2 separate regions of the Homo sapiens genome follow, and region 1 is linked to region 2. The links come from fine-mapping of genetic effects on gene expression. Tissue or cell type: thyroid. Region 2 holds a variant in brackets; the other region holds the start of a gene. All regions are shown on one strand. Distances are between the middles of the regions.

What was found. PIP is the estimated chance that this variant, and not a neighbour inherited with it, causes the effect.
Region 1: it holds the start of DLGAP2, and the variant in region 2 is fine-mapped to the expression of DLGAP2 in thyroid (GTEx, PIP above 0.99).

Annotation. Positions count from the first base shown.
Region 1 is chr8:733,943-742,871 of GRCh38, reverse strand. DLGAP2 (DLG associated protein 2) reads right to left here and starts at 5,244. Exons shown (of 15, transcript NM_001346810.2): 1 at 5,047-5,244. The coding sequence starts at 5,064. It overlaps LOC124902044 (a long non-coding RNA gene), which reads left to right and starts at 5,842. Exons shown (of 2, transcript XR_007061156.1): 1 at 5,842-6,015; 2 at 6,655-6,838. LOC401442 (a long non-coding RNA gene) reads right to left here and starts at 4,324. Exons shown (of 1, transcript NR_134292.1): 1 at 2,498-4,324.
Region 2 is chr8:1,217,512-1,227,818 of GRCh38, reverse strand. The region is part of intron 2 of DLGAP2 (DLG associated protein 2); the gene reads right to left. Among named protein-coding and RNA genes, the nearest start is that of DLGAP2-AS1, 400 kb to the left of the region's middle. The variant T/C (reference allele first, on the strand shown) is at 5,264.

The DNA.
Region 1 (8,929 bases), 480 kb after region 2:
ATTGGCCCCACTCTTAGTGATGAGAAAACTGAAATACGGTGAGGTCAAATAAAGAGCCAAATGCAGCTGGGAAAAGTGACTCACTCCTGTAATCCCAGCACTTGAGGAGGCCAGGGCAGGAGGATTCCTTAAGGACAGGAATCTAAGGCCAGCCTGGGCAACACTGCAAGACCTCCGTCTCTACCAAAAAAAAAAAAAGTAAAAATTAGTTGGGTGCGGTGACATACACCAACTACTAGACAGGCTGAGGTGGGAGGATCACTCGTGCCCAGGAGGTCAAGACTGCAGTTAGCTATGATCATGCCAGTGCACTCCCGCCTGGGTGACAGAGGGAGACCCTGTCTCTAAAAAGCCACTTGCAATGCTGTGCAAAAGTCACAGGACAAACATTCGTTACACACAAAAGGATGTTTTTCAATACCGCCTAACTTAAAATACATACTCTATGGACCCTTGAGATCATTCCCATTTTTCTTCTTTTGTACAGAGTATGAAACATTTTAAAGACAACGATCAGTCAGATTCACAGGTTACTTTAAAAATTTTTAACACAAGTTTACAGATGGGCTATTTCCAAATGTTTATTCATTGTTTAAAATGGTTGATTTAAATTTTTCTCTTTTTTTCCTGCCGATACACACGATGTACCATATAAGAAACAGTACCCGAAGATGAATAAGCCTTTCCCTGCAACAAGAGGTTTAATGTGGAAATGTCTGAAGAAACTAAAAGCCCATACATCCCATTTGCTTGTCAGGGACAGAAAACTCAGTTCAAAGAAACAATCTCCTGGTTTATGTAACTGAAAGTCACGGGGTAATGATGGTTCAGGCATAACTTAGTTCAGAGCTTCCAACAGCATCCTCAGGACCAAGCTCTCTGCATAACAGCCGCCCTTCTCCTCCACAGACAGATGAGGAAGGTGTCATTTCCAGACAGGCCATCCCTGCAAGGCTGTGCACTGATGCCACAACTGCAGGCCTTACACCTTTCCCGCTGTTTTTCCTAAAGCTTTCCTCTCCTTGAAAGTTCCCGCTCTTCACTCATCCAATTGCTCTTGAGAGGGAGTTAGGGCTCCGGCCAGTCAGGAGCCACCTCTGACGGGAAGTAGGGTCCGCCAAGCCAACCCCATGAGGTGGCAGGTGTTCCCTAAGGGGAGCTGGCTGCTGCCTGGAAAGGGAAGCGTACACTGAACTGCAAATACACTGGAGTCTGCAGTAACGGGTCTAGAAAGCTCAACTCCTGAAGGCCCGCCAATAAATACAGACAGGACACTTCCAGAACTAAGGCAACTGACATCCCACATGAAGACACTGCCATCAAGTCAGGAGAGGTGCACCTGCAGCGGACACCCATCACCGGGATGTCAGAACACCCAGGCCCCTCTCCTGGAGCTAAAGTTAAGGGACTGCATGTCAAGGCCCATGACCTGAGGACTGGGAGAAGATTTTCATAGGCAGATGAAGTCAGTGCACAGAAGAATGACATGAAAAAAGAAAAACAGAGCTTTACAAATGAGCTCCTACTGCCTTTGCTGAGGAGATTAATTTGTTACTGCTGTTAAGCCTTGGAAGGGAAAGGTGGCTACCAGTAGATGCAAGATTTAAACTAGAGTTTGCACACCCTACGACCCCATGCCTGGTCAATGCCAAAGCCCATCTGCTTAACTTCCCTAGAAATTAAAGTCTTTTGTCATGAGCACACGTGAAATCACTATGCTCAGTTTTTGTACGCACAAGTACCCAGGAAACAACAAAACATATTGAAGAAGTTAGTGGCACTAGAAAGCCTCGTATGATGAAAACTAGTTGGTAAAACTACGGTTGATTAAGAATAATTTTTAACTGCATAGAAAGTGTGCCTACTAACTTCCTGTATGGCAGCCTGTAATTCTTTTATAACCAACATGATGGCAATGCTCTAAATATGACTCCCATCTGGCCAAAATGATGAATCATAGTTATTTTTATTGTATCCAATGAATGACCATGGAGCATCCATCCTGAGGGTCAATAAATAGAATATTTAATCAACTTCATTTTAAAATCTATAATCAAAGTATACATCATTCAACTCCTTGGATAACTGAGGAGTCATGAAGCTTTTCCTCAAATACAGTTATATAATAAAAAAATTATAGCATTTCTTCAATTTCAACATTATGGAAGATGATATCTTCAAAATAAAACAAAACAAAATCCTCTCACCCTTAAAAAGATATTAGAGCACTTTAGTTTCAGAATTAGTTGGGTTCTGGGTACACAGAATCCAATGTAATTTAAATTCCACGAAGCCTATTTTTGCTTTTAATATTTAATTTGGAATTTCTACCAATTTCAAAACTGAAATAAGTAGACACAAATAAGAGAAGCAATAGATTGCCACAGAAGGGCATGTATGTCACTGGGGAGAAATAATGTCATGTGATCTGAATTCTACAAAACTAAAAATCGAATTAACCCATTTAAATCACAAGTAACAAAAGGCATACAAAAAGTTGGTAAATAAATACATGTTTATTTCTGTCTCAAGCTGTACCACTTTGGACAATCATAAGTGCAAAGTTCTTTCGAAGAATAACAAATAGACATTGAATACTATGAAAAGTTGACTTAGAATGCTTATCTGAGAAAACATCTTCGTGCTGAGAAAGCTTTACTTTTAATTACTTCGTTCCTTTGAATTATTTGACGTAGTACTCATTTTGCTTACAACTCTTACCCTTTAACCTGAAATTATAATATACAGATTTGACGCGGTAGATCAACAGAGGAAGCCATTCTGTGCCTCTCCACTGCTTACCCAAGAACACGGGCGATCACCAAGGAGTGACAGTGAAGGGGCAGGAATGGCGCACAGAGGCAGGATGCGTCCCAGGTCATCACTGAGAGCAGATCCCACGCGCCCGAGCTGCCGCGGTGAAGATGCCTCAGGTGACCCGAGACAGAACCGAGGACAGGGCCGGCTCTGTGTCACCTCGGTCCCTCCACGGCCTCCCCGCCCAGATGTGCTTGGACAGAGTATTGCCTACAGCCTGCTCCACATGCTGCCAGATGTAGGGGATAAAATATTCTAATGTGTTCTCTTCCAAGCAATGAAAAAGTCACACCATCCAGAAGGAAATGGTACGCACACTCTACAATTACTATTGGAGCCAAATCTGTGAGTCACCCAGCTGCCGGCACAAGACAATTTGGCTACTGGAAAATCCTGATTAATGACATTTTTTTAAACCCAGAGTAACAACTTGACCTGCCAAGAATTACCATTTTTTCATCATTTCGCCATTTTTGGCCTTGGTTATCTATTACCTTTCTCAGAGAAAAGGAAGTAAAATGAAAATGGTGTAAGGTGCGTTCACCTCAGGCCAAAATGCGCCTTCCAAGGTGCGCTGGGGCCGGGGTTTAGCGCAGCTTCGCGACCCGGGGGAAGGCTCCTTGGAGAGCCTCCTGGACTCCCTCGGGCTACGCCGAGGTACCGGGTTATTTCCCAACTGCAAGGACAATTAATTCACGGGCTGTTGATGAGATTCCTCCTGACAGGGCGGATTGTCGGGCTCCGCCAGGCTCTGGGACCGGGTCTCTGTCCGCCGCGCCCCAGGCCCGACCTCTCCGGGGGGTACCCCCCTTCGCGTCGCCGGAGCTGCCTCCAGCCTCGAGTCCGGGAAGACGGGAGAAGCGGCGGCGCTTTGGAGAATATTTACAGTTCCCAAACCCCCCACAGCCCGGGCTGGCCGAGTTCATCCACACGAAGGATAAATTCACTGCTGATCGCTTTATCTTTAATCGATAGAAGACCGGGGCCGCCGACAAGTCACGAATTTCCAATTCCAGGCCGTGGCCGGGATCGCCATTCACCGGCGGCGGCGGCGGCGGCGTCGCGCAGGGGCTGGAAGGACCCGGGCTCCAAGCGCGCAGGGCCGGGACCGGGGGCCGCGAGTTTCCGACGCGCATCGCAGACCCGCCGCGCACCCTCGCCCCCGCGTCCGCTCTCCACCTGCGAACCTACGCTGTCCGGGGGCTCCGCCTTCTCGCCGGCGCCCACCTCGCCCAGCTATCTCTCCTCCAGGCCCCTCCCCGGGTTCCCAGGTCCAGCCTGCTCCGAAGCCTCGGGCACCGCACACGCCGCGCGCTGAGGGAGGGCCGGGCGGGGAGAGGCGTCCAGTCCAGCCCAGCCCAGCCCAGCCCAGCCCAGCCCCACCTGGGCGCGCAGGCAGAGGAGCCCGCGTCCGCCGCCCCCCAGCCCTCCGCGCAGGGCTGTAATAATTACATCCTCATTATTTCTCCTGCAATCGTTAGCGAAGGAGCCGGAGACAGCAACAGCCGCTGCCGGGGGAGGCTTAGTTACAAAACCCTGCGCTGGGTAGCGCCTCGCTTAGCAACCACCCCTAAAAAAGACCCCGAGCTCCTCGCTCGCACTTGGAGAGCCGGGCGGCGGCCACCCCCTCGCTGCGCGCACCCTCCACTCCGCCTGGTCTCGGCAGCCGCTGCTGCCCGGCACAAGGGCCCCATCCTGGTCGCCCCCGCCCCCGCGAGCCCCCGTGCGCGCAGCCCAGCCCGGCACCCTTCATTCATTCCCAGTCCCCGTCGGCGTTTCCACCCGGGCTTGGGGGGAGGGGGATGCAGTCTGCTGCCCGCCGCCCCCACTCGCTCGCAGCTGCCCCACCGGAGCTAGGCGCGTAGCCCCTGGCGCGCCGGCACCCCCCAGGCTTTGCCCCCTCCACCCCGGGCAGGCAGAGCGGAGAATTTCACACCTCCGCGGCCCCGTGCGCTCCCGCACCCCCGGAGCCCAGGGTCCCGGCACCCCCGAGCGCGGCCAGGGATGCGCGGAGCCCGGCGAGGAGCGCAACGCGCGACCCCCGAGCACAGGCTGTCCCTGGGGTCCCCAGCGCTCCGGCCCCGGCGGGCGGCACGACCCCCGCTCGCCCCCGCCCCCAACCCTGACGCCCTCGGGGCGTCCCCGCGGGTCCGACACACCGCGCCCTCCCCGCCTCGACGGCTCTCGGAGCCCCGCGCCCGGCTCCCGGCAGCCCCCGGCGGCTCGCACCTTCCTCAGCGCGGACATCCTCGGACGCTCCGGGCTCAGCAGGTGCGGGGCGACATGGCGAAGCGGCCCCTCCTCAGACCGACGGCTCCCGGGGCTCGCGGGTTGGGGTCAGTACGTCCGTCCGCGGTCCGTCCGTCCGTTCGCCGCCGCAGGCGCCGCGCGCTCAGACCGCGCTCGAGCCCGGCGCACGGTCGGTCTTCACGGCCGGCGCCTGCGCACTCGGCGCCCAGGGAGGCACCGGCGCACTGGGGGGCGGCCGGCGCGCGGCTGCATCTGGGGAAGGGCCCGGCTTGGGGAGCGCGCGGGCAGCCCGGCTCCAACTGTTGCGCGGGGCGCGCGGGTCACCCGGGGACTGTGCCGGGCTCCCGGCGGGAAAGCAGCGGCCTCCACCGCGGCGCGCGCAGGCGACGCTCACCGCGCCCGAAAGTTAGCGGGGGACCCGGTCACACCCGTCGCCCCCGGGCAGGGTCAGCCTTTCTGGACCGCTGTTAGAGACGCGCCGGCGCGTTTGTGCGCGGGACTCGCGCTCGGGTTCGAGTCGGCTCGGCGCCCAGGGGGGCTCGCGGGGCAGAGGGGACGCGGGGCGAGGGAGGCGCGGGCGCTTGCGAGGGTCTCACTGCGAGGTGCGGCCGCCGCTTGGGTGCTGGAGGCAGAACCTCCCCCGGTTTCCACTGGCGGGCTACGCTGAGGAAGGTGTGCGGCGGCGGCTTCGCGGGGACCCACCGGGGGGCGCCCCGAGAACCTGGGTCCGGACGCAAGGAGCGCCCTCGGAGGGGGCCCGCCGCCTGGGTTTGCTGTGAGTGGCGTATGGACGACAGAGCCGAGGAAAAGGGAAAATCGATCCGGAGAAGTGGTGTTGACAACCACAGCAGCCGGGAAGATCAGCCACCCTGGCCACGTGTGGACGGACCCTCGCCAGGATCATGGGTTTTCCCTTCCGGGATCGGAACGCGGGAGCTAGACGCGCTGGTATGGGGATCCCTGGGCGGTCACCGACCCTGGGCAAGTCTCTCAGCCCCAGTTTAACATAAACGCAGAAATGGATTTCTGCTTTCCACCTGCATGGCTACGGCATTTAAATGAGGTAAAAGATGCGAAAACAAACCGCATAGAAAGACGGATGGGAGTTAGAATGAAATCAGGTCATCCAAAATATTTGGAATGGACAAACCAATCTTTTCCAGAAATTCCAAGATCTTTAAACAAAAAACAGGCTCTGTAAGAATTCCCCGTATAATTGATCACCAAAATATTCATCAGTTGCAGTTTATTTTCAAGGCAGAGTGCTAAACGACGAGGGGGTAGAAAGGTGAATGGGAGAAAGAAGTCCGGCCGCTGTCCATTTCTTCTAAATGTTTCCCGAATCTATCAGTGGTCTCCACTGTCAAAAAAAAAAAAAAAAAAGGTGCATTCAGCGCCCAAACCTCAACTAGGGAGAGATTCCAGGCCAATTTATTTTCATTTCACAATTTACTTTCCCTTTGCTTTCCTCCCCTGCATTTCGTCCCCATCCCTTCACGTTTTTTAAAAATATATATATATATTATTTCATGCAACCGCAACAAGAAAATCACACAAATGTACTGACGGCCTCTCCTGTGTTCTCAGCGTGTGAGCAGCACAGAAAACCACGGTTGCCGCCCCATGAAGCCTTCAGTCTAGAGAGGGATCCGCCCAGAAGTTACCCAAGGAACAGACAATTACAAGTTATAATTCTCTGAAGGAAACATATGGAGTGTTATTGGTGAATGTGAAAAGGGCAACAAATACAGTTTGTGACATCAGAAAAGAACTTTTTGAGGACGTCGTTATTAAATCTCCCCCTGGGTTCTCCCACAAGCAGGTTTTGAGGTGTGGATTTGGGTGCAGGTAGTTCATTTGGGAGATCGATCCCAGGAAACTAGAGAGAGGAAGTAGGGAGAGAGAGGCAGGGCAGGAGAGGACGTCCCAGAGGCTGCGGTGACGCTGGGCTGCTCCTGTGGCCACCGGGGCCCCGTCCTGCTGGGGTGCTCTAACAGGAGCAGCTTGGAGTGCACGTCAGCTTAGGAAGGCTGGACAGCTTTTCAGCTTCTAGGTCCCAGTGACTGAGGGCTGCTCCTCACCCACACACCCCACTCCCCAAGTTGAGCACCTCCCAAAGCTTCAAAGAAAGTCCAGAGGCCAACCAGCAGGGGAGTGCACGGGGACCTGAGAGCACATTGAGGGTGGCATCAGAGGTGGCCTCTGCCATGGCCCTGGGAACAGGATTTAGGGAGATAAGAGCAGGCCTGAAGACCTTGGGAGATAGAAGGACTTGATGCCTTTTTTTTTTTTTTTTTGACGGAGTCTCACTCTGTCACTAGGCTGGAGTGCAGTGGCACTATCTCAGGTCACTGAAACCTCTGACTCCCTGGTTCAAGCGATTCTCCTGCCTCAACCTCCCGAGTAGCTGGATTACAGGTGCACACCACCATGCCCTGCTATTATTATTATTATTATTATTATTATTATTATTATCATTATTATTATTATTATTTGTATTTGTATTTTTAGTAGAGGCGGGGTTTCACCATGTTGGCCAGGATGGTCTCGATCTCCTGACCTCGTGATCCACCCGCCTCGGCCTCGCAAAGTGCTGGGAGTACAGGCGTGAGCCACTGTACCTGGCCTTTTTTCTTTTCTAAGACAGGGTCTCACTCCTGTTGTCCAGGCTTGAGTACAGTGGTGCTGTCACGGCTCACTGCAGCCTCAACTTCCCTGACTCAGGTGATTCTCCCACCTCAGCTTTCTGAGTAGCTGAGACTACAGGTATGTGCCACCATGCCTGGCTAACTTTTTGTATTTTTAGTAGACACAGGGGCTTGTTATGTTGCCCAGACTAATCTCCAACTCCCATGCTCAAGCGATCCTCCTGCCTCCGCCTCCCAAAGTGCTAAGATGACAGGCATGAGCCACCATGCCTGGCCACATTTTCGTTTAACTGAACAGTCAGAATAACTGCAACTGAGGGAGAAAAGGACCACATGATTGTGACGGGAGAAAAACTCAGGGGTCTTTCAGGACATTTTAAGGGCTTTGATTTGTATCCTCTATACAATGAATTATGATGTAGGATTTTGAGCAAGGCAGAGATTTTCTTCATAGACAATCCTGTCATTTGCAGAGAAAACTTCTATTTCTCCCTTCCCAATCTGTATACCTTGTATTTCCTTTTCTTGTCTCATTGCATTGGCCAGGAATTGCAGTGTAACAGTGAGATGCAGTGGCAAGAGGGGGGGGCCTTGCCTTCTTCCTGATCTTAGTGGGAAAGGCTTCTAGTTTCTCACCATTTAGTATGCTGTTAGCTCTAGGGTTTTTGTAGGTGTCCCTTATCAAACTGAAGAAGTTACCCTCTAATCATAGTTGGCTGAGGGTGTTTCGGTTTTAAATCATGAATGGGTGTTGGATTTTGTCAAATGCTTTGTCTGCATCTAATGATGTGATTGTGTGGTTTTTCTTCCCTATCCTGTTGCTGGATGGTCCACCTTCAGTGATTTTTGAATGGCAGTGAGGTTTTAAAATGACCATTTTGGCTGCTATAAGAAGAAATGTCGGTAGGATGGGAGTGAGGAACAAGAGTGGAATTGAGATCATTTTAAAAATGCTCGGAGAAATCCTGGGATTTCAGAGATCAACTTAAAAAAGGCTGGAGAAATCCTAGTGACAAATGATGAAAACACAAACTCAGCAGTGGAAGTAAGACACGTTGCAAGTAGAATGCGCTTGATGTGATTTTTCTGGATGGGTTATTCAGGAAGAGAGGAAGAGGAGAGTCACCAATGACCCCCAAGTTTGGCCCAGCAATTGGATGACACTTCTGGGAGGCCTTAGTGTGTTACATGCTTACTGAGAACTGTGTGTTGGA
Region 2 (10,307 bases):
TCTCCAGACTTGTTCATCTTATCTGCTCCTTTGTACCCTCTCACCTACATTTCTCCTTTTCCTCTCTCTACCCCATCCCTGATAACTAGTTTTATCTCTTTATATAATTCCACATATAAGTGACATCATGTAATATTTTTCTTCCTGTGTCTGCCTTATTTCATTTAGCATAACGGCCTCCAGGTCCATCCGCATTGTCACAGATGGCAATGCTTGAGAATTGCTTGAACCTGGGAGGTGGAGTTTGCAGTGAGCCAGGATTGTGCCACTGCACTCCAGTCTGGGCGACAGAGCAGAACTCCATCAAAAAAAAAAAAGAAAAGAAAAGAAGCAAATCTCAACTGTAGGCTGCCTGCAAGAGATTCATCTCACATGTGAAGACAGCCACAGGCTCAAAGTAAATGTACGGAGAAAGATCTATCAATCAAATGGAAAACAAACAAGTGGAAGAGTTGCTATTCTTATTTCAGAAAAAAAAAATAAAAACAGACTTTAAACCAACAATGATCGAAAAGGAGAAAAAGAAAGGCATTACATAAGGATCTTATTTTTATAAGGCTGAATAATATCCCATTCTGTGTGTGTGTATAAAACAAATATATATATAACACTCTTAAAAATGAATGGATAATATATATCTATACTATATATATATATATATATATCTCACAGTTTCCTTACCCATTCATTTGTTGAAGGACACTCAGGTCATTTCTGTATCTCGGCTATTGTGAAATACGCTGCAATGAACAGGTGAACAGGGAGTGCAGATATATTTCCGAGGTGGTGATTTTGTTCCCTTTGGGTACAATCAGAAGACAGGTTGCAGGGTCATAGGGTAATTCTATTTTTACTTTCCTTAGGAACGTCGATACTGTTTTCCATAATTGTTGCACAAATCTACTTTCCTGCTGAAGTGTGGGGGTTCCCTTTTCTCTGCACTAACATTTGTTATCTCCTCTCTCTTTTCATAGCTATGCTATTTGGTGGGCATGAGGTGGTATCTCAGTGATTTTGATTTGCATTTCCCTGAGGATTACTGATGTTTACTGAGGATTACACAAACGTTCAACAGTTGTGTGAAAAGCGCTCAACATCACTAATCCTCAGGGAAATGCAAATCAAAACCATGTTGGTCATTTTTATATCATCTTCTGAGAATATCTACTCAGGTCCTTTGCCCATATTTCATTTATTTTTTCAGTTCCAGGATACATGTACACGACATTCAGGTTTGTTACATAGGGAAATGTGTGCCATGGTGGTTTGCTGCACCCATCAACCTTGGTATTAAGCCCCACATGCATTAGCTATTTATCCTGATGCTCTCCCTCCCCCTTGCCCCCTGACAGGCCCCTGTGTGTGTTGTTCTCCTCCCTCCTGTGTCCATACCTTCTCATTGTTCAGCTCCCACTTATAAGTGAGAACATGTAGTGTTTTGTTTTCTTTTCCTGTGTTAGTTTGCTGAGGATAATGGCTTCCAGCTTCATCTATGCGCCTGCAAAGGACATGGTCCCATTCCTTTTCATGGCTGCATAGTATTCCATGGTGCACCGCATTTTTTTTATCCAGTCTATCATTGATGGACATTTGCGTTGATTCTGTGTCTTTGCTCTTGTGAACAGTGCTTCACTGAACATACGTGCGCATGCATCTTTATAACAGAATGCCCATGGTTTAAACTGAGCTATTTATTTTTCTGCTATTTAATTATATAAGTTCTTTATAAATTTTGGATATTACCCCCTTATTAGATATATGACTCAGCAATTCCTCTTCCATATATACCATATATATGCATATATACCTATGAGAAATGAAATCACCACCTTGTAAAAATATCTTTCTAAAATATTAAAAATGAAAAGGAAAAATTATATATATATTTACAGCATACAGCATGATGTTTTGATATATGCATACATTACGGAATGGCTAAATCAACCTGCTTAAACTTTTTTGTGGTGTGAACTGAAAATTTACTCCTTAGCAATTTTGATTTATACAATATATTATAAACTGCATTCACCACAATACACAATAGATGTCTTGAACTTAGTCCTTCAGTCTAACTGAGATGTTCTGTCCTTGGACCAAGAGCTCCCCAGTATTTCTTCTTATTTTTGGTAGTATGTACCTAGTAGAAATTTGTTCATTTCACCTAAGATACCAAATTTATTGGCTTAAAAGTGTTCATGATACTTGCATATGATTTTAATTTTTAAAGCTGAGGTATAATTAAAAACATAAAATTAACCATTTTGACGGGATCCATGTAGTGGCATTTAATACATTCACGTGTTGTTCAACCAGCTCTGTCCAGTTTCAAGACGTTTTTCATCAGTCCAAAAGGAAACCCCACCCTAGTAAGTGACCGTTCCCCATTCTCCTCTCTGTTCTGCCGCTGGCAATTACCTCGGTGTTCTGTATCTGTGGATTTACCAGTTATGGATATTTCATTGATGTGAAATCACAGAATATGTGACATTTTTTGTCTGGCTTCTTTCACTGAGCATAAGGTTTCTGAGGTCCTTCCTCCGCTGTAACATCTACCAATCCCTCACTCGTGTTCATAACTGAGAAATGTTCCGTTGTCTGTACATATGGCATGTGCTTATCCATCCACCCCTGTGGACATCCAGGTGGTTCCCCTTCGGCTATCATGCAAGCACTGCTGTGAGCATGGACGCTCCCGCACTGGTTTGGGCACCTATTTCCAGCTCTTTTGGGCACACAGGCAGGATGGCATTCTTTTCCATTTTAAGTTTTTGTGGATAGTGAAAACTTAAACTCTTTTCCACAATGGCTAAATAACTTTACATTTCCAACAGCAACATATGAGGATTTCAGTTTGTCCATATCCTTGCTAACTCTTGTCACTTTGCTTCCGATTAATTTTGTCACCAACAGCCATCCTAGCAGATGTGGGGGAGCAGTTCACTGCGGTTTTGACTCGCATCTCCCCAGGGACTCATAGTTTTAAGCATCTTATCACGTGCTTGTTGACCATTTGTATATCTTCCTTGGAGAATGTCCATCCAGTCCCCTTGCTCATTTTAAAATTAGGCTTTTGTGTTGTTGAATTTTAACAGTTCTTCAACTATTATAGACACTATAATTCATTTTATTCTTGTAAGGTTAGTAGTAATCTCTCTTTTCATTCTGGATTTTAGTAATTTCAGTCATCTCTTTTTTTCTCCTTATGAGTTAATAAAAGGCTTAACAATTTTGTTGAGTTTTTCAAATAATAAAGTTACAGTTTCATTGATTTTTTTCTATCATTTTTTGTATTCTATATTTTATTAATTTCTGGTCTACTCTTTCACACAATAGTTTTGAGATGAAATAAACACCTGAATGTGAAAGTACCTTTAAAAATGAACTTGTACATAAATATGTATTAATTCAATAATTATTTAAGATGCTTTCTATCTGCCAAGCAGGCTCTGTTCTTGGTGCTTGGGATATGACAGTGAAAATTTTTCCTACTTGACGGTAGTTACAAATACGCATGTCAATTATGTCTCTTATATGAGAGAACTGTGCCTTACTCATCCTGATATTCCCTCTTCCTGACCCACATTAAATGTGCCACGAATGCCAGGTAAATGCTAAAATAAGAGATATTTTCATTATCTGTCATTTTCTTGCAATTCCTCTTAGACAATGGCTCCTTTGAGAGGAGAAAACCTATCTTAATCATCCATGTGGTTTAAATTCTGTCTGCCACGATGCCACAAACATATCGTACGCTCAAAGAATATCGTTTTGATTCATTGCTTAACTTGAATCTGCCTTCATATTAATCCACATCAAGGGGAAACAATGAGAAGTCAAAATTAATAAGGTAAAATAATTAAGGTTGAGAAAATATCCTTATTGTTTTTAACAACAAGGAGTATGTCTTCTGTTTTTCTCCATCTCACACATTGTTTGCTAGAGAACAGAACATATAGATGCTCAATAAATATACACATATAGAGCATATGGGTGCTTAATAAATCTCTGCCTACTATTCAATTGTTTTTATCCTTGAGATTCCGACAGGTTGATTATCCCACTTCCCTTAGGGAAAACCAAACAGTCATCACAGAACCCTCCATAATGGCTGCAGGGGCCCACAGTGGCAGACAAGTCTTGCTCTTCCCTTTCAGAAATCTTGCTGTGGGAACACAAATCAGTGCGTATGTCTCTAGTGTTTAAGGCACTTACAATTCTTAATGTCATATTTTTAAAAAAGAGAAAGTGAAGATCAACAACCCTGGTCAAACCATTCTTTCAAGCAGCCCTTCTTATACAATGATATTTTTCTTTAATATTTTAAACTTTTAGTCATCTTGTAGAAGAAAGAGAAATGTCATCCACCCACTAATTGTTTCAAAGTACTTCTTCTCCCCACCCTGAACAGTAGTCACTCTTTAAAAAATGCAGCACCGCGGAGAAGAGCCAAGATGGCTGGCTCCATGCACACGGGAAGCGCTTCTCACAGAGACCAGCCCATGGCATAGACCTGCACACTGTGAACAGATCCTTGGAAAAAAGGCTTTCAAAGTGGACAGTGAGGACACAGATCCCTGGCTGAAAGGGGAGGAAGGTGGGAACCCTGGACAGGGTTGCTGGGCACCAGGACTTGTTATTGGCCTTGAGTGACTCCTAGGGGAGGACTAAGGGAAACAGGCATGGAGTGGCCCACTCTTCACATGGATCTCCCCGATCCCACCTATGGGAGACTCAATGACCCCCACAGACCTCTGAGCTGGCAGGGAGAAGTGCCCAAGGAGTTGGCAGACAGAACTCCAGAAGATTTGGTGTGGGAACGGCTGCAGTGGAGCTCAGCCATGGGCACCCGTCCCCCAAGGCTTGCCACACTCCTCTAGGTGGCTTTAGGCTTTGTTAGCTGTGGGACCAGGAGAGAGCACGGCTGGCCGGCTCCTGGGATGCAGCCAGTCTGATCTGAACGCCCCTCTGACTGCTGGCCTCTCCTGGGCTCCCCGCCTGGATGCACCCACTTGCAGCACAGCAACAGCTGCCAAGGCTCTCATCAGTGGCCACAGCCCCAGCCCTCTCACCAGCAGAGCCCGTCTGACCATCAGAGCACTTCTGCAGATAAACCCCACCAGTGCACACCCACCCACAGCTTTCCCCTGCCAGCATGCACCCACCAGCAGCCTCCCCCCACCGTGTACACCCACCTGCAGCCTTCCCCCGCCAGCATGCACCTACCTGTAGACTCCCCCTGCTATCTTGCCAGCACATACATGCA[T/C]GTGCACTTACGTACTTACCATCACTCTGCAAGAGCACTTTGGCTAGCAGCCCCCACTGGAGTGTCGTTACCAGTGGACTGAGAACACCTTGGCCCCTCCAGCACAGCAGGTACTTAAACTTGAGGGGCCAGAGAACAAAGCCATGGGACTGGTCCTAGCCCCCCAGGGTTAGAGCATGCAGCCCCTGGGTGCTGAGCTGAGCCTTTATCCCTTGAAATCTTCCAGAAATAAAGTGAACTGACTGAGCCCAGCTTATACCACAGTCAAACTCGCAAGGGCATCAAAGAATATAAAATCAAAAAGCCCCATCCAAAAGATAGCGATGTCAAAGATTAAAGTAACATCAGCCCACACAGATGAGAAAGAACCAGCACAACAACTCTGGTAACTCTAAAAGCCAGTGTGTCTTCTTACAACCAAATGACTGCTCTAGCTCCCCGGCAATGTTTCTTCACCAGATTGAAATGGCTGAAACAACAGACATGGAATTCAGAATCTGGATGGCACAGAAGCTCAAGATTCAGAATGAGGTTGAAACCTAATCCAAGGAAAACAGTAAAATGGTCCAACAGTTGAACGACAACAATTTTCAGACAGAACCAAACAGAACTGGAAATAAAAAATTCACCACAGGAATTTCGGAATGCAATTAGAAGCATTAATAACAGAATAGACCAAGCTGAGGAAAGAATCTCTGAGCTCAAAGACCACTCCTTCAATTCAATACAGGCACACAAAAATAAAGGAAGAAAAGCACTTAAAAATGAAGAAAACCTCTGAGAAATATGTGAGAATGTAAAGAGAGCAAACCTATGACTCGCTAACATTGCTGAAAGAGGTGGAGTGACAGCAAGCAACTCGGAAAATATATTTGAGAATGCTGTCCATGAAAATTTCCTCAACATTGCCAGAGAGGTTGATATGAAAATTCAGGAAATTCAGAGAACCCCTGAGAGATAATATACAAGACGACAATCCCCAGGACACATAGTCATCAGGTTCTCCAAAGTCAGCATGAAAAAAAAATGCTAAATGCAGCTAGAGAGGAGGCAGGTCATGTACCAAGGGAACCCCATCAGGCTAACAGTGGACCTTTCAGCAGACATCTTACAAGCCAGAAGAGATTAAGAAACTATATTCAGCATCCGTAAAGAAAAGAAATTCCAACCAAGAATTTTACATGCAGCCAAACTATGCTTCATAAGTAAAGGAGAAAAATAAATCCTTTTCAGACAAACAAATGCTAAGATAATTCATTAGCACCAGACCTGCCTTCGAAGAGGTCCTAAAGGGACTGGTAGACATGGACATGAAAGACCCTTATCTGCCACCACAAAAACACACATAAGTACATAGTCCACTGACACTAAAAAACAACTATATAACCGAGTATACATAACGATCAGCTAAGAACATGACATAATTGAATCTTCACATACCAATATTAACCTTCAATATAAACAGGCTAAACACCCCCAGTTAAAAGGCAAAGAGTGGAAAGCTGAAGAAACAAGCAAGACTCAACTGTACGCTGTCTTCAAGAGACTCATCTCACATGTGAAGACACCCATAGGCTCAAAGTAAATGTATGGAGAAAGATCTATCAAGCAAATGGAAAACAAACAAGAGGAAGAGCTGCTATTCTTATTTCAGAAAAAAAGACTTTAAACCAACAATGATCAAAAAGGACAAAAAAGGCATTACATAATGATAAAAGGTTCAATTCAACAAGAAGGCTTAACAAAACTAAATATATAGGCACCCAATGCTAGAGTACCCAGATTCATAAAAGAATTTCTCAGAGGCCTATGAAAAGACTTTGATAACCACACAGTAATAGTGGGAGATTTTAACATCTCACTGACAGTGTTACACAGATAATTGAGGTAGAAAACTAACAAAGATATTTGGGACCTAAACTTCACACTTGACCAAATAGACCTAATAGATATCTACAGAATACTCTCCCCAACAACAACAGAATATATAGTCTCATCTCCACACGGCACATATTCCAAGATTGATAACATCCTTGGCCATACAGCCATTCTCAACAAATTGAAATAAACCCAAATCATACCAAGCACACTCTTGGACCACAGCACAATAAAAACAGAGATCAACACCAAGAACATTGCTCAAAATCATACAATATCATGGAAATTAAACAGCTTCCTCTTGAATTACTTTTGGGTAAAGAATGAAGGTAGAAATCCAAACATTATTTGAAACTAATGAAAACAAATATACAACATGCCACAATCTTTGGGTCACAGGTAAAGCAGTGTTAAGAGGAAAGTTTCTAGCACTAAATGATTACATCAAGAAGTTAGAAAGATTTCAAATTAATAAGCTAACACCACACCTAAAGAAACTAGAAAACCAAGAGCAAACCTAACCCAAAGGTAGAAGAAAACAAATTGCCTAAATCAGAACTGAACTGAACAAAATTCAGACACAAAAATCCATTCAAAACATCAACAAAACCATAAGTTGGTTTTTTTGAAAGAAGAAATAATACTGATAGACCACTAGCTAGATTAAGTTTAAACAGAGAGAAGATCCAAATAAACACAATCAGAAATGACAAAGGGGATATTACTGTTGATTCCACAGAAATACAAAAAGCTCCCAGAGACTATTACTAACACCACTATGCACACAAACTAAAAAACCTAGAAAAAAAAAGAATAAATTCCAGGAAGCATACCATCTCCCAAGATTGAACCAGGAAGAAACTGAAATCCTGAACAGACCAATAATGAGTTCTAAAATTGATTCTGTAATAAGCTACCAACAAGAAAAAGCCCTGGGACATACGGATTCACAGCCAAATTCTACCAGACATAAAAGAAAGAGCTGGTACAAAACCAACAAAACTATTCCAAAAAATCAAGGAGGAGGGACTTCTCCCTAACTCATTCTATGAGGTCAGCATCATTCTGATACCAAAACCTGGCAGAGATACAAAGAAAAAAGAAAACTTGTGCTAAGTATCCTGATAAACATAGACACAAAAATCCTCAGCAAAATACTAACAAATCAAATCCAGCAGCACATTAAGATGCTAATCCACCACGGTCAGGCAGGCAATATTGATTCCTGGATGCAAGTTTGGTTTAACAAACATAAATAAATGTGATTCATCACATAATCATAACTAAAAATAAAAACTACATGATCATCTTAATAGATGCAGAAAAGGCTTTCGATAGAATTCAACATCCTTTCATGTTAAAAACCCTCACAAACTAGTCATCAGAGGAACTTATCTCAAAATAAGAGCCATCTATGACAAAACCACAGCCAACATCATATTGAATGGGTAAAAGCTGGAGGCATTTCCCTTGAGAACCAGAACAAAACAAGAATGCCCTCTCACACTACTTCTATTCAACATAGTACTGGAAGTCCTTGCCAGAGCAGTCAGGCAAGAGAAACAAATAGAAAGCATTCAGATAGAAAGAGAAGAAGTCAAACTACCTGTCTTTAGACTATATGATTCTATACCTAGAAAACCCCGCAGTTTCTGCCCAAAGGCTCCTAAAACTGATAAACTTCAGTAAAGTCTCAGGATATAAACTCAGTGTACAAAAATTAATAGCATTTCTATTCACCAATAACATCCAAGCTGAGAACCCAATCCAGACCACAACCCCATTCACAATAGTCACAAAATGAATAAAATTCCTAGGAATACAGCTAACCAGGTGGTGAAAGATCTCTACAATGAGAATTACAAAATTCTGAAAGATATTAGAGATGAAACAAGTCAATGGAAAAACATTCCAAGCTCATAGTTATGAAGAATCAATATTGTAAAATGGCCATACTAATCAAAGCAATTTACAGATTCAATGCTATTCCTATCAAACTACCAACATGATTTTCCATATAATTAGAACTATTCTAAAATATATATTAAAACAAAAAAGAGCCTGAATAGCCACAAAAGTCCAAAGCAAAAAGAGCAAAGGTGGAGGCATCACATTACTCAACTTCAAACTATACTATAAAACTACAGTAACCAAAACAACATGGTACTGGTAAAAAAACAAAACTAAACAGAATAAAACAACAACAACAACAACAACAAAACCCAGACACATAGACCAATGGAACGGGATAGAGAACCCCCAAATAAAGCGGCACACCTACAACCAACTGATCTTTGACAAAGTTGACAATAACAAGCAACTGGAGAATGGATTTGCTATTCAATAAACGGTGCTGGAATAGCTGGCTACCCATATGCAGAAGATTGAAACTGGGCCACTTCCTTTTACCATATACAATAATTAACTCAAGATGGATCAAAGCCTTAAAGGCAAAACCTAAAACTATAAAAAATCTGGAAGAGAACCTAGAAAATACCATTCTGAACATAGTGTTGGCAAACATTGTATGATGCCTCTGAAAGCAATTTCTACAAAAACAAAAATTGACAAGTGGGACCTAATTAAAGAGCTTCTGCATAGAAAAAGAAACTATCAACAGAGCAAACAGACAACTTATAGAATGGGAGAAAATATCTGCAAATCTACCCTTCTGACAAAGGTCTAATACCTAGCATCAACAAAGAACTTAAATCAACAAGCAAAAAACAACCCCATTAAAAAATGGGCAAAGGACATGGACACTTCTCAAAAGAAGACATACATGCAAGCAACAAGCATATTTTAAAAATCCTAAACATCACTACTCATTATAGAAATGCATATCAAAATCACAATGAGATACCCTCTCACACCAGTCAGAATGGCTATTATTAATAGCAGATGTTGTCAAGGTTGCAGAGAAAAGATAACGCTTAATTTATATTCCCACTACTGGTGGGAATATAAATTAGTTCAGCCACTGTGAACTAATTTAAAATTCCTTGGAATATAGCTAACCAGGGAGGTTAAAATTCCTAGGAATACAGCTAACCAGGGAGGTGAAAGGTCTCTACAATGAGAATTACAAAACTGCTAAAGGAAATCAGAGATGAAACAAGCAAATGGGAAAACAGTCCAAGCAGTTTACAGATTTCTCAAAGAACTA